3 separate regions of the Homo sapiens genome follow, and all the other regions are linked to region 1. The links come from fine-mapping of genetic effects on gene expression. A gene starts in region 1. Each other region holds a variant in brackets. All regions are shown on one strand. Distances are between the middles of the regions.

The links. PIP is the estimated chance that this variant, and not a neighbour inherited with it, causes the effect. A credible set is the group of variants that fine-mapping cannot tell apart.
Region 2: its variant is the best candidate, but not a certain one, in a credible set for the expression of TNPO3 in whole blood (INTERVAL, PIP 0.59).
Region 3: its variant is the best candidate, but not a certain one, in a credible set for the expression of TNPO3 in whole blood (TOPMed, PIP 0.66).

Annotation. Positions count from the first base shown.
Region 1 is chr7:129,052,896-129,057,137 of GRCh38, reverse strand. TNPO3 (transportin 3) reads left to right here and starts at 2,027. Exons shown (of 23, transcript NM_012470.4): 1 at 2,027-2,487. The coding sequence starts at 2,368. It also overlaps the pseudogene TPI1P2. RefSeq lists a silencer at 889-1,183 and enhancers at 889-1,183, 1,995-2,494.
Region 2 is chr7:129,075,580-129,079,821 of GRCh38, reverse strand. No RefSeq gene overlaps it. Among named protein-coding and RNA genes, the nearest start is that of TNPO3, 23 kb to the right of the region's middle. The variant C/G (reference allele first, on the strand shown) is at 1,849.
Region 3 is chr7:129,081,308-129,085,549 of GRCh38, reverse strand. No RefSeq gene overlaps it. Among named protein-coding and RNA genes, the nearest start is that of TNPO3, 28 kb to the right of the region's middle. The variant C/T (reference allele first, on the strand shown) is at 2,409.

The DNA of each region.
Region 1 (4,242 bases):
GAGGGCAGCACCCCTGGCTTCTGCTTGGCCTCACAGTGTAAGAAGGGAGAGGATGGGTTCTCTCTCCTCCCCTCACTAGGGCCTAGGGGACCCAGGAGCAAATTCCATCCCTTTCACCTCTCAGCCAAGGAGAAGCCACATTGGTGACATTTAGTTCCAACAATTACAGTAAGTGGAGAAGGGATTGGTCTGGTCCCGACCATTACACGGTGAAGGTATACATAGTAAAGGAAGATACAGTTTGGATGAGGCCACAATAGGGTGCAGATGACACCATCAGAAGCATGTGCAGGGGAGGGGCAGTCACTCAGCTTCTGGGCTGCTTAGTTCCTGGGTTGGCAGGAAGGGTAGGGAAGACGGATGGGGCTCATTGTTTGGCATTGATGATGTCTACGAATTCGGGCTTGAGGGAAACACCACTCATGAGGAAGGCAGCCACGTCAGGCTGGCTGGCCAGCTCCTTGCAGGTTGCCTTGGTCACAGAGCCTCCATAAATGATACCAGTGCTCTGAGCCACTGCATCAGAGATGTTGGACTTAAGCCATCCTCGGAGCTTCTTGTGTACCTCCTGGGCCTGTTGGGGTGTTGCAGTCTTGCCAGTACCAGTGGCCCACACGGGATCATAGGCCAAGATGACCTTGCTCCAGTCCTTCACATTATCTGCGATGACCTTTGTCTGCTCAAAAACAACCTTCTCAGTGATGCCAGCTTCCCTTTCATCTAGCTTCTCCCCAATGCAGGCGATTACTCCGAGTCTCTCTGCCAGAGCATGGGCCACTTTTCTGCCCAATCAGCTCATCTGACTCCCCAAAGACACGCCTTCTGAGTGCCCCAGGACCACACCACCCACGTGACTCCTAAGTCTTTGACCATGCCAGGGCTGATCTCCCCAGTAAAGGCCCCATTAGTCACTTTGTAGCAGTTCTGCGGAGCCACAGCAATCTTGGGAGCTAGCTTCTGCCGGGCCAACTCGTTATACGCAGTGGCGAGAGCACAAATCACCTTGGTGTCGGCAGGCACAGTGGCCGCGTTCTGAGTGCCGATGAGCTCCCCCAGACATTTCTTCCGCCCGTTCATCTTCCAGTTCCTCCCCACGAAGAACTTCCTGGAGGGCGCCATGGCGCTGGAGCTGAGGCGCTGTAGGTCAGTGTCAGCGCCTAAAACGGGTTTTATTAATACTTGGCAAGGTTGTTAGGCGGATTAAATGAGATCTTGTAACTACAGTGTTTTACACATTGTGATCATTTATCAAATAGCAGTTATTTACTAGTGCAAAGGACTAGCAGCAATGTTAATATCAATATACTGTTACCTTTTGTCCCTAATTTCTCCATAGTACAGTTTCCAATATTTCTGTTTTCTTTTGTGAATTGTTAGACCACTGGTATTGGATTCGGACAGAAAGGCATTCACAAAAATACAGTTCAATGTGAGAATAACCCTAAAGATGTATGCAAAATGCTCTGGAGTTAGAGCACCAGGAGCTGTAAGCAGAATGAAGACCTCTTTTGGGCTTAAGAACTAAGTAAAGGGGAGCTGAACAAAGATTCTAGGCATTTTGGATTTATCTCAATGTGGCACATATTTCAGGTTTGTAAAATAGTTCAGTTGACTACGTGTCTGTCTCCTCCACTAGAGCCAGCGTAGGTACCATGTCTTAAGTCATCTTTGGATCTCCAGTACTGTGGCCACTCTAGGGAGAGTTGAATTGACGCGCCTTGATCACCAGGGCAGAAAAGGATTCTCTGGAGAGGGATGGGGCAGTCGGAAGGGGTAGGAAAAACCTGGATCCGTTTCCAAGGAGCTGAAGGCAGCTCAGATATGGGGCACATCTCGGCGCTAATGTCCCAAGCTGCTAGCGAGGAACAGAGAGAACACCGGCTCTTCTTCCCGGCTCCTGGCCCGGCAGGGTTACTTCCGGGAGGGGGCGGGGAGACAAGAGGAGGCGTGCCGGGAAGGAGGCCGTTTGTAGTGTACCAGGCGGAAGTGTGCCAAAGGTATCGGTGCTGTCGCTTCCGGTCCGGGTAAACGAACCTTAGGTACACTGGTGTGTGGCCTCCCAAGATAGGCTTCTGAGGGCAAGTCAGCGACTGAAGACGGGAGCGCCAGAATCTGTGGACTCAAGAGTCTAGAATCAAGTGGAAAAACCGGAAAAAAGGCCAGGAACCTGAATACGACCTAATAGCTGTTTCCGAGGGGGCAACTTCCACGGAGAGCCTTCTGCCCTGGTAACGGCCAAAGAGGAGGAGATGGCGCCAGTCAGGGAGCGGCCGTGGCCCAGACAGTGAGGAAGCGCGAAGGCGGAGCAACCGAGGAATCCTCCGGAGAAGAATCAGAGCCGTCGCTACCGCCACTACCGCCACCACCATGGAAGGAGCAAAGCCGACATTGCAGCTCGTGTACCAGGCAGTGCAGGCGCTTTACCACGACCCAGATCCCAGCGGAAAGGAGCGCGCCTCTTTTTGGCTTGGGGAGCTGCAGCGTTCGGTGAGGGGCCCAGAGAGGCAGTTCTGTGCCGCACGGCCGGGGCGGGGTGGAACCTAGGCTCCGGGGGAGAACCTGAGCCCGGCAGTTGACCTCGTGAGGTCCTCCTTGGGGAGGAGCTGCTGTCGTGGGGTGGGGCTGCGAAGCTACATCTTTGCCGCTTTTGGGAAACTAGTCGCACCTGATCGGTCGCGAACTGGCCCTTTCCCCACCCGGCAGAATCTGATTTGTAGGTCTTATACTCTTCGATTGTGGCATCAATCTAATCTTGTTTAAGTTCTCCCTTTGCCGTTGCTTCTTGGGCCGTGCTTTTCCGTTTTGTCTTCCTCCCACCAAATCCAACCCCAGTGTTTCTCCACCTTCCGCTTAAGAAGGCTTTATTCGTCTCCCCTCCGTGTCCAAGACTTGCATCTGGCATTTTGCTCCCAGTCGTAGCCTTATGCCTCACTCTTTTTGCCTATTTTCACTCCAGTTTGAGTCTGTTCTTCTCGAAACTTCTCAGGTTTCTAGATTCTTACTCATGCGAGTTTTCCCCTTGCTTTGGAGTGGCAACATAATATGAAGAAAAAACAGTAATTCTGCTTTCAGAAAATCTTTGGAGTTCTCATTTTGTTTCATATTAATCCTCTAACCTTGTTATTTCTCTGGCTTTTAGATTTTTATTTATAAGATGGGTATCACTGCTGCTTTGATTATTCCATATAAAACTGTGTGTGCATCCGGTGAGATATTTAATTGTAGCTTATATCTGTTGTATTTCTGCATTCTTTGATTCATGTTTTATGCTTCCTGCCCTAATTTTCACACCTTTGCTGTGCTTCATTTCTGTGTAAATGTGTATTCTTGGTTATCTGGCTGACTTAGGTTCTAATGTAGGATGTACTTTAAAAATTAAGTACTTTGAAAACTAAAGAGGCTTTTTTTACAGGCTGACAAAATACTCACCTTTACCTTTATTTTTGCATTTTATACTCACAACCATATTTTTTTTGGCCCCCTTCCCTTTATTTTAACTCATAACTGATACTTAAAGGTGCTCTGCCTTATTAAATCAGCTCCTAGGCTGCAAGTGCATAATATTTAAAAATTTGCAACTTTGACTTTTTAAAAATCTGGTCTTGGTATGGAGCAACTTTGCCTTTTTTTTTTTTTTTTTTTTGAGACAGAGTCTCGCTTTGTCGCCCAGGCTGGAGTGCAGTGGTCCCATCTCAGCTCACTGCAACCTCCTCCTCCCGGGTTCAAGAGATTCTCCTGCCTCAGCCTCCCGAGTAGCTGGGATTACAGGTGCCTGCCCTGACACCCGACTAATTTTTTTTTTTTTTTCTTGAGACAGAGTCTGGCTCTGTTGCCCAGGCTGGAGGAGTGCAGTGGTGCTATCTCGGCACACTGCAACCTCCTCCTCCCAGGTTCAAGTGATTCTCCTGTCTCAGCCTCCTGAGTAGCTGGGATTACAGGCACACGCCACCACACCCAGCTAATTTTTGTATTTTTTAGTAGAAACGGGGTTTCGCCATGTTGGCCAGGCTGGTCTCTAACTCCGACCTCAGGTGATCCGCCCGCCTCGGCCTCCCAAAGTGCTGGGATTATAGATGTGAGCCATCGCCCCCCGCTGCAACTTTGACTTTGAATATTAAACCTAAAAAACTGGCACCCAAGTCCTCTTCAGAAAATAAAGGAATACGACTCACTGTAGGCTACACAAGAAAATCATTCACATATGGTCTCATTTAGTGTTTCTGTGATCTCTGGAGAGTCAAC
Region 2 (4,242 bases), 23 kb before region 1:
GGCGAGGTGACTCACACTTGTAATTCCAGCGCTTTGGGAGGCCAAGGATTTGGGAGGATTACTTGAGGCCAGGAGTTTGAGACCACCCTGGGCAACATAGCAAGATCCTATTTCTATTAAAAAATTAACAAAGAAGGCTGGGGGTGATGGCTCATGCCTGTCATCCCAGCACTTGAGAGGCTGAGGCAGGCAGATCGCTTGAGGTCAGGAGTTTGAGACCAGCCTGGCCAACATGGTGAAACCCTGTATCTACTAAAAATACAAAAATTAGCTGGGCATGGTGGTGCATGCCCATAGTCCCAGCTACTCAGGGAATTGAGGTGAGAGGATTGCTCGAGCCCAGGAGGTCAAGGCTGCCAGTGAGCTGTGATCACATGCCCCTGGACTCCAGCTTAGGTGACAAAGCAAGACCCTGTGTCCAAAAAGTAAAATAAAAAAATTAAAATTTAAAAAATTAACAAAGAAATTAACATACAGCAATATTGACCCTTTTTTAAAAGTACTACAAGTTTTAACACATGCAGATTCTTTTAACCACCTCCACAATCAGCATACAGAATGGCTTCATCACCCCTCTAAACTCTCTTAGGCTATCTTCTTTTGAGACAAGGTCTCATTCTGTCACCCAGGCTGGAGTGGCATAATCATGGTTCACTACAGCCTTGACCTCCCTGGGCTCAAGTGATCCTCCCGCTTCAGTCTTCCAAGTAGCTAGGACTACAGGTGCACACCACCACACACAGCTAATTTTTTAAGGTTTTTGCAGAGACAGGGTCTCATGTTGCCCAGGCTTGTCTCGAACTCCTGGGCTCAATCAATCCTCCCATCTTGGCCTCCAAAAGTGCTAGGATTATAGGCATGAGCCACCGTGCTTGGCTTTATGCTATCTTTCTGTAATTATATCCTCCCCTCAATTCCATATCCCTAGAAATCATTAATATGTCCTTCAACACTATAGTTTTGTCTTTTCGAGAATGTCATATAATAAAATCATACAATGTGTAACTTTTTTTTTTTTTTGAGACAGGATCTTGCTCTGTTGCCCAAGCTGGAGGTGCATTGGCACAAACATAGCTCACTGCAGCTTTGACTTCCTGATCTCAAGTGATCCTCTCACCTTAGCCTCTAGAGTGGTTGGGACTACAGGTATGTGCCACCACGTATGGCTAATTTTTGCATATTTTGTAGGGATGGGATCCCACTATGTTGCCCAGGCTGGTTCAAACTCCTGGTCTCAAGTGATCCTCCTGCCTTGATCTCCCAAAGTGCTGGGATTACAGGTGTCAGCCACTGCACCTAGTCAATATGTAAGTCTTGAGACTGGCTTCTCACACTCAGTGTAATGCCTCTGAGGATCATCCCAGTTGTTACCAGTGTCATAATTTGTTTCTTTCCATTGTTGACTGGTATCTCATTGTATGAATGTACCAGTGCAAAAAGTTTCTTGGCCGGGTGCGGTGGCTCACACCTGCAATCCCAGCACTTTGAGAGGCCGAGGTGGGCAGATTATAAGGTCAGGAGTTTGAGACCAGCCTGACCCACATGGTGAAACCCCATCTCTACTAAAAATATAAAAATTAGCCGGGCGTGGTGGCGGGTGCCTGTAATCCCAGCTCATCGGGAGCCTGAGGCAGGAGAATCGCTTGAACCAGGGAGGCACAGCTTGCAGTGAGCAGAGATAGCGCCACTGCACTCCAACCTGGGCGACAGAGTGAGATTCCATCTCAAAAAAAAAATAAAAAGTTTCTTTATAGTTTCAGCCACTGAAGAACATCTGGATAATTTCTAGTTGGGGGCAATTATGAATAGCGCTGCTATAAACATTCACATGCAGAATTTTGTGTGCAC[C/G]TATGTCTTCATTTCTGTAAATACGTAAGCGTGGGGTTGCTGGGTCATGTGGTAGGTATATGGTTAACTTTATAAGATGCCAAACTGTTTTCCAAGAGGCTGTACCATTTTCCATTCCTACCGGAAATGTATGAGTTGAAGTTGTTTCACATTCTCGTCAGCACTATTTATTCCTAATATCTTTTTTTTTTCTTTTGAGACAGAGTCTTGCCCTGTTGCCCTGGCTGGAGTGCAGTGGCTCAATCTTGGCTCACTGCAACCTCCACTTCCCAGGTTCAAGCGTTCGAGCGAGGAGTCTCGCTCTGTCGCCTAGGCTAGAGTACAGTGGCTCCATCTCGGCTCACTGCAAGCTCCGCCTTCCGGGGTCACGCCATTCTCCTGCCTCAGCCTCCTGAGTAGCTGGGACTACAGGCACCCGCCACCACACCCAGCTAAGCTTTTTGTATTTTTAGTAGAGTCGGGGTTTCACAGCGTTAGCCAGGATGGTCTCCATCTCCTGACCTTGTGATCTGCCTGCCTTGGCCTCCCAAAGTGCTGGGATTACAGGTGTGAGCCACCGCGCCCAGCCTCAAGCAATTCTTGTGCGTCAGCCACCTGAGTAGCTGGGATTACAGGTGTGCACCACCAGGCCCAGCTAATTTTTGTATTTTTAGTAGAGATGGAGTTTCACCATGTTGGCCAGGTTGGTCTTGAACTCGTGGCCTCAAGTGATCTGCCCACCTCAGCCTCCAAAAGTGCTGGGATTACAGACGTGAGTTGCCATTCCTGGCCTGTTATTTTTTATTTTTATTATTCTATTAAGTGTGTAGTGATATCTTAATTTGTATTTCCCTAATGGCTAATGATGTTGAACATCTTCTCATGTACTTATTTGTCTTCTATATATTTTCTTTGGTGAATTGTCTGTTCAAGTTTTTTGCCCATTTTTAAATTGGGTTGTTTGTCCATTTCTTATGACTGAATTTTGGGAGTTCTTTATATATTCCAGATGCAAATTCTTTGCCATGTATGTGATTTGCAATATTATGCCTCATCTGTAGTTTATTATTTAATTCTTTTAAAATTGTCTTTTACAGAGCAACAGTTCAAGTTTGATGAAAACTGGAAGAAAATATTTTAATAAACGTTTGGGTTAGAGGTAAAAATTAGTGGTCAGTAGAACACCCAAGAAAGGAAACAGCCTCCCTGCACTGTTTGGGGGTGGTAGCTGGCAGGCACCTAAAAACACACCAGTTTTTGAAAACTTCTCTAGCTTTCTCACTGTGTTACTTTCACACTGTGCTATGGTTTGAATGTTTGTGTGCCCCCAAAAGTGATACATTGAAACCTCATCTCCAATATGATGACATGAGCAAGTGGGAGTTTTAAGAGATGAGGTCATGAGGGCAGAGACTTAATCAATAAAATTAGTAACTTTATAAAAGAGGCCCCAGAGAACCTCACGGCCACTTCCACCATGTGAAGACACAGCAAGACGCTGCAATCTATGAACCAAGAAATGGGCCCTCACCAGACACTGCATCTGCCTGTGTCTTGATCTTGGACTTCCCAGCTTCTAGAACTGTAAGAAATCAATTTCTGTTGTGTATCAGCCACCCAGTCTATGGTATCGTAGCCCAAATGGACTAAGACACACTGCTTTCTCAAATATTCTTTCTCATAGTCTCAACAACCATTGTGTCAATGTATTGCCTTCAAACACTTTGAAACGTTGACATTTTCGGAGACTGTGCCAAAAAGGAGGAAATATCCCTTAAGCCAGGCTTCCATCCTGAATTCTACACACAAGATGAAGAGAAGAGATTCTTTTACTCCTTCCAGAAAGGGGTGAAAGAAGGAAAGAGGAAGCTAATAGGAACAGAAAAGCTGTGACCTGCCCATGTGACCATTCCCTGCCACCTCCAAATGGTCACCAAGCATTTCCAGAAATACCTCATGAATGCTCTGAGTTGCTCCATCTACATGATAGGGAGTTCTACGTGGGATTCCTTGCAAGCAGCTCTGATGGCAGGAGGGGAGACCATGGGAAAAGGAGCACTGGGGCTGGCAGAAATCTACAAGGATAGTTTTGGATTTCGACAGCCTGTGGCCTTAGCAGGGAATCTGTGTAAACTCTGCCGGGAATCCCAAGAAATGAGGCAGTGAAGGAGTGGGGGTGGGGTCTCTGCTAACTTCTGGTATGTGCATGCATGTATAAATATAAAAATATCTTTTTTTTTTTTTTTTGAGACAGAGTCTCACTCTGTCACCCAGGCTGCAGTGCAGTCGCATGATCTCAGCTCACTGCAACCTCTGCCTCCCGGGTTCAAGCGATTCTCCTGCCTCAGCCTCCCGAGTAGCTGGGACTCTAGGCACATGCCACCACGCCTGGCTAATTTTTGTATTTTTTAATAG
Region 3 (4,242 bases), 28 kb before region 1:
ATGTTTGAGAAACTGCCAGACTGTTTTCCAAAGTGGCTGCATCATTATACAAGTCCACTCACTAGCAGGGTATGAGAGTTCCAATTTCTCCCTACCCTCACTAACAGTTGCTTTTGTCTGTTTTTTAAATTTTTGTCATCCGAATGGGTGCGCAGTGATATCTCATTGTGGTTTGTTTTTAGTAACAGCTTTATTGAGAGATAATTCAAATAGCGTACGACTCACCCACTTAAAGTACATGCAGTAATGTGGATAGATCTTAAAATAATTAGACCAAGTGAAATAAACCAGACAAGAGTAAGGACTTTTGAATAAAAGCTATGTTAACTGGAAATAAAAGAATAAATATTGTACGATTGTATTCCTATAAAATTCTAGAAAATATAAACCAATCCATAATTACAGAAAGCAGATAAGGGACAATGGGGGGTTGAGGAGAGAGTTTGGGGGAAGTTTCCAGGAAGAAGGGATCACAGGAGGACACAAGGAAACTTTTGGGGGCTGATATTTATTTTTATTATCTTTTTTTTTTTTTTGACAGCCTCTCACTCTATCGCCCAGGCTGGAGTGCGGTGGCATGATCTCAGCTCACCGCAACCTCCACCTGCCGGGTTCAAGTGATTCCTGTGAACCACCGTGCCTGGCCTATTTTCATTATCTTGACTGTGGTCATGGTTTCACGGGTGTATATGTATGTCAAATCTTATCCAATTACACTATAAACATGTAGTTTACTGTATGTCAATTATATCTCAGTAAAGCTATTTTGAAAGAATACAAAGGACTCTACAATATTCTGTCACCTCCCCTTTGTCATGTCACTATACTTTTACCCTGAAAGCTCCCTCCAAACCATATCCCTTAAAATTTATTTATTTATTTATTTATTTATTTATTTTGAGACGGAGTTTCACTCTCGTTGCCCAGGCTGGAGTGCAATGGCGTGATCTCGGCTCACCGCAACCTCTGCTGCCCAGGTTCAAGCAATTCTCCTGCCTCAGCCTCCCGAGTAGCTGGGATTACAGGCACCTGCCACCGCACCCAGCTAATTTTTTTTGTAGTTTTTAGTACAGACGGGCTTTCACCATCTTGGCCAGGCTGGTCTTGAACTCCTGACCTCATGATCCACCCACCTAGGCTTCCCAAAGTGCTGGGGTTACAGGCGTGAGCCACCGCGCCCGGCATGACCTCTGTTTTATACCATTAACTATGAGATTAACAAAAACCTTTACCTTTGTGCAGAAGGTTAAAAAAAAAAAAAGCATAGTCAAGGAAAAGGAGATGTGTTACCTCTTCATACACTCCTACAACCATGGCATTGCAAAAAATAAAAATAACCACCTTTAAAAAAAAACCTAATTTAAATTGCTGTTCAATAATAATAATATATGTAAGATGATTAGATCAGTTCCTGGCATATGGTAAATATAGGTAAGTGTTTGCTATTTATTTTTGAAGCAAAAATGAGGATTTGTCAAAAATTGGGTGAGCAGCTACTTATGGAGGATAAAAGAACCTTTCAGGCTGTTTGGGAAAAGCTTCATTCTAAGTTTCTTCTTTGTAAGAGGACCTATTGCTGCCAGCACTTCTCTTGCTAACAATTCTGGTGGGTGATTTATCTTCGTTCTGCATTTCTTTCCGTAGCTCCTGTAGACATTGAAGGTAGGGTGAACCTGTTACTAAGGGGAGATACAAAAGTAGTGCAGGGGGTAAGATTAATCGCATGGGAATGAAATATGCTCTGAGCTTCTGAACATTTGTTACGTGAACCTGAGGAATGAAATGATATACTGAGCACTCCACAAGCTGTTTTTTCCGGTCAGTTGTCTGGTCAGAAATTTGTTAACTCACTCCTCCCTGATTCATCACACTGTCAGAAAGCTTGTATAACACGGAGTCTGAAGCATTCCAGAATCTTTCTTTTTTCTTTTTTTTAATAGAAATGAAGTCTTGCTATGTTGCCCAGGCTGGTCTCAAACTCCTGGGCTCAAGTGACCCTCCCACCTTGGCCTCCCAAAGTGCTAAGATTACAGGTGTGAGCCACCACATCCAGCCTAGAATCTTAAATTTACTATTGTACTTTGGGACCACAAGAACTTAAAAGTAAGAGGAATAAAATTATCATGAATATTAGTTAGAATTCAGTTTGATAATAACAGAAAAAACCTAAAACACCGGCTGGACGAGGTAGCTCATGCCTATAATCCCAGCACTTTGGGAGGCCAAGGTGGGTGGATCACGAGGTCATGAGACCATCCTGGCCAACATGATGAAACCCCGTCTCTATTAAAATACAAAAAAGGTTAGCTGGGTGTGGTGGTGCAGGCCTGTAGTCCCAGCTACTTGGGAGGCTGAGACAGGAGAATCGCTTGAACCCTGGAGGTGGAGGTTGCAGTGAGCTGAGATTG[C/T]GCCACTGCACTCCAGCCTGGGCAACAGAGTGAGACTCCGTCTCAAAAAAAAAAAAAAAAAAAAAGAAGAGGAAGGGGAATTATTACATCAGAGGGCAATTAGCAATCATTTTTTTTTTTTTTTTTTTAGATGGAGTCTCGCTGTGTCACCTAGCCTGGAGTGCAGTGGCTCGATCTTGGCTCACTGAAACCTCCACCTGCCAGGTTCAAGTGTTTCTTGTGCCTCAGCCTCCCGAGTAGCTGGGACTACAGGCGTGCACCACCATGCCAGGCTAATTTTTGTATTTTTAGTAGAGACAGGGTTTCACCATGTTGTTCAGGCTGGTCTCGAACTCCTGACCTCAAGTGATCGGTCTGTCTTGGCCTTCCAAAGTGCTAGGATTACAGGCGTGAGCCACCGTGCCCGTCCTAATCATAGAAAGTTAATAATAAGATCAATATATAATTAGCATGTGACAAAAAAGCCTGGCTCCTAGGATTTGATTGTTTAAATTAAAAGATTGAAAAAAATCTGTTTGTTAGAAGGGGCATTGTTTAGCATGGATTCTTGGAAGAGGACACTTCTGGGAGGTGGACATAGGCATTGCCCATCCATGTATTGGGCACAAAGGAAATCACAGCCTTTAAATGACAAAACAACTTATAATGGAGATGTGGAGGCAGGAGGTTGTAACCAATGGGATGTGAGTACTCTGCAGTAAGTAACCTGTTGGTGAGACCACCTCTATTATAGGATGACTGGCCTAGGCTATCTTAGCCTCACCTGTTACCACTGAACCCTGGGGCTTCGTCTAATTTCCATGTGTTTTCCATGGCCACTTGGCAGTCAACTTTCTCATTTTCATGGCGACCTACCGACCAGAGAGAATATGCTGCAGAGAGAGACTTGTAGGGGAGAAGTAGCTGACCCTGTAACAGTCCCAATTATCATGGTCAATGAGTGAATTGGCAGCCCGGCGTCTCCCTCAGCCTCCTATGTCCCTTTTCCAATGTGAGTCTGTTCTCAGAGTCTGGTCCTCGCTGTGTATTGCCAGGGGTGAACCTGTGGTCCTTCAGGGTGGAAGTTCTGATCCTGAAAAGTGTGATTGCCTGGCCAGGCGCAGTGGCTCACGCCTGTAATCCCAGCACTTTGGGAGGCCGAGGTGGGTGGATCACGAGGTCAGGAAATCTAGACCATCCTGGCCAACATGGTGGAACCCCATCTCTACTAAAAATATAAAAAATTAGCTGGGTATGGTGGTACGCACCTGTAGTACCAGCTACTCGGGAGGCTGAGGCAGGGGAATCGCTTGAACCTGGGAGGCGGAGATTGCAGTGAGCCAAGATCACGCCACTGCACTCCAGCCTGGCGACAGAGCAGACTCCATCTCAAAAAAAAAAAAAAAAAAAAAAAAGGTGATTGCCCTGAAGGAGACTTTTCCAGCTCCAAACCACTTCCCTTAGATGACATCAATCAGCTCTCTGCTGGTTCGAAGAATATGTTGAAAACAGTGTCAGAGTTAGCTATTTTCATTTTATTATAGTTCTTTGAGAACTGGGAAGAGACAGTGGGAGTGTCTTGGAATATATATTAGGTTTGGTATCAAGAAACTGGTCTAAATTCTGTTATTGCCAGTAACTACCTTTAAACCTCAGTTTCCTCATTCATTTGTAAAGTGGAGCAAACTCATAGCTGTCTTGCTCGCCTTAAAGCTTTTAATGCAAATGGTAAAACTCCTTTCTAAAGTAGATTATTATTCTGTGAACACCTGTGGTATTCAGAGTTTAATATAAAGAAATACGATCAATATCCATTATAATTACACCTTGTTTACAACTTTTTTTTTTTTTTTTT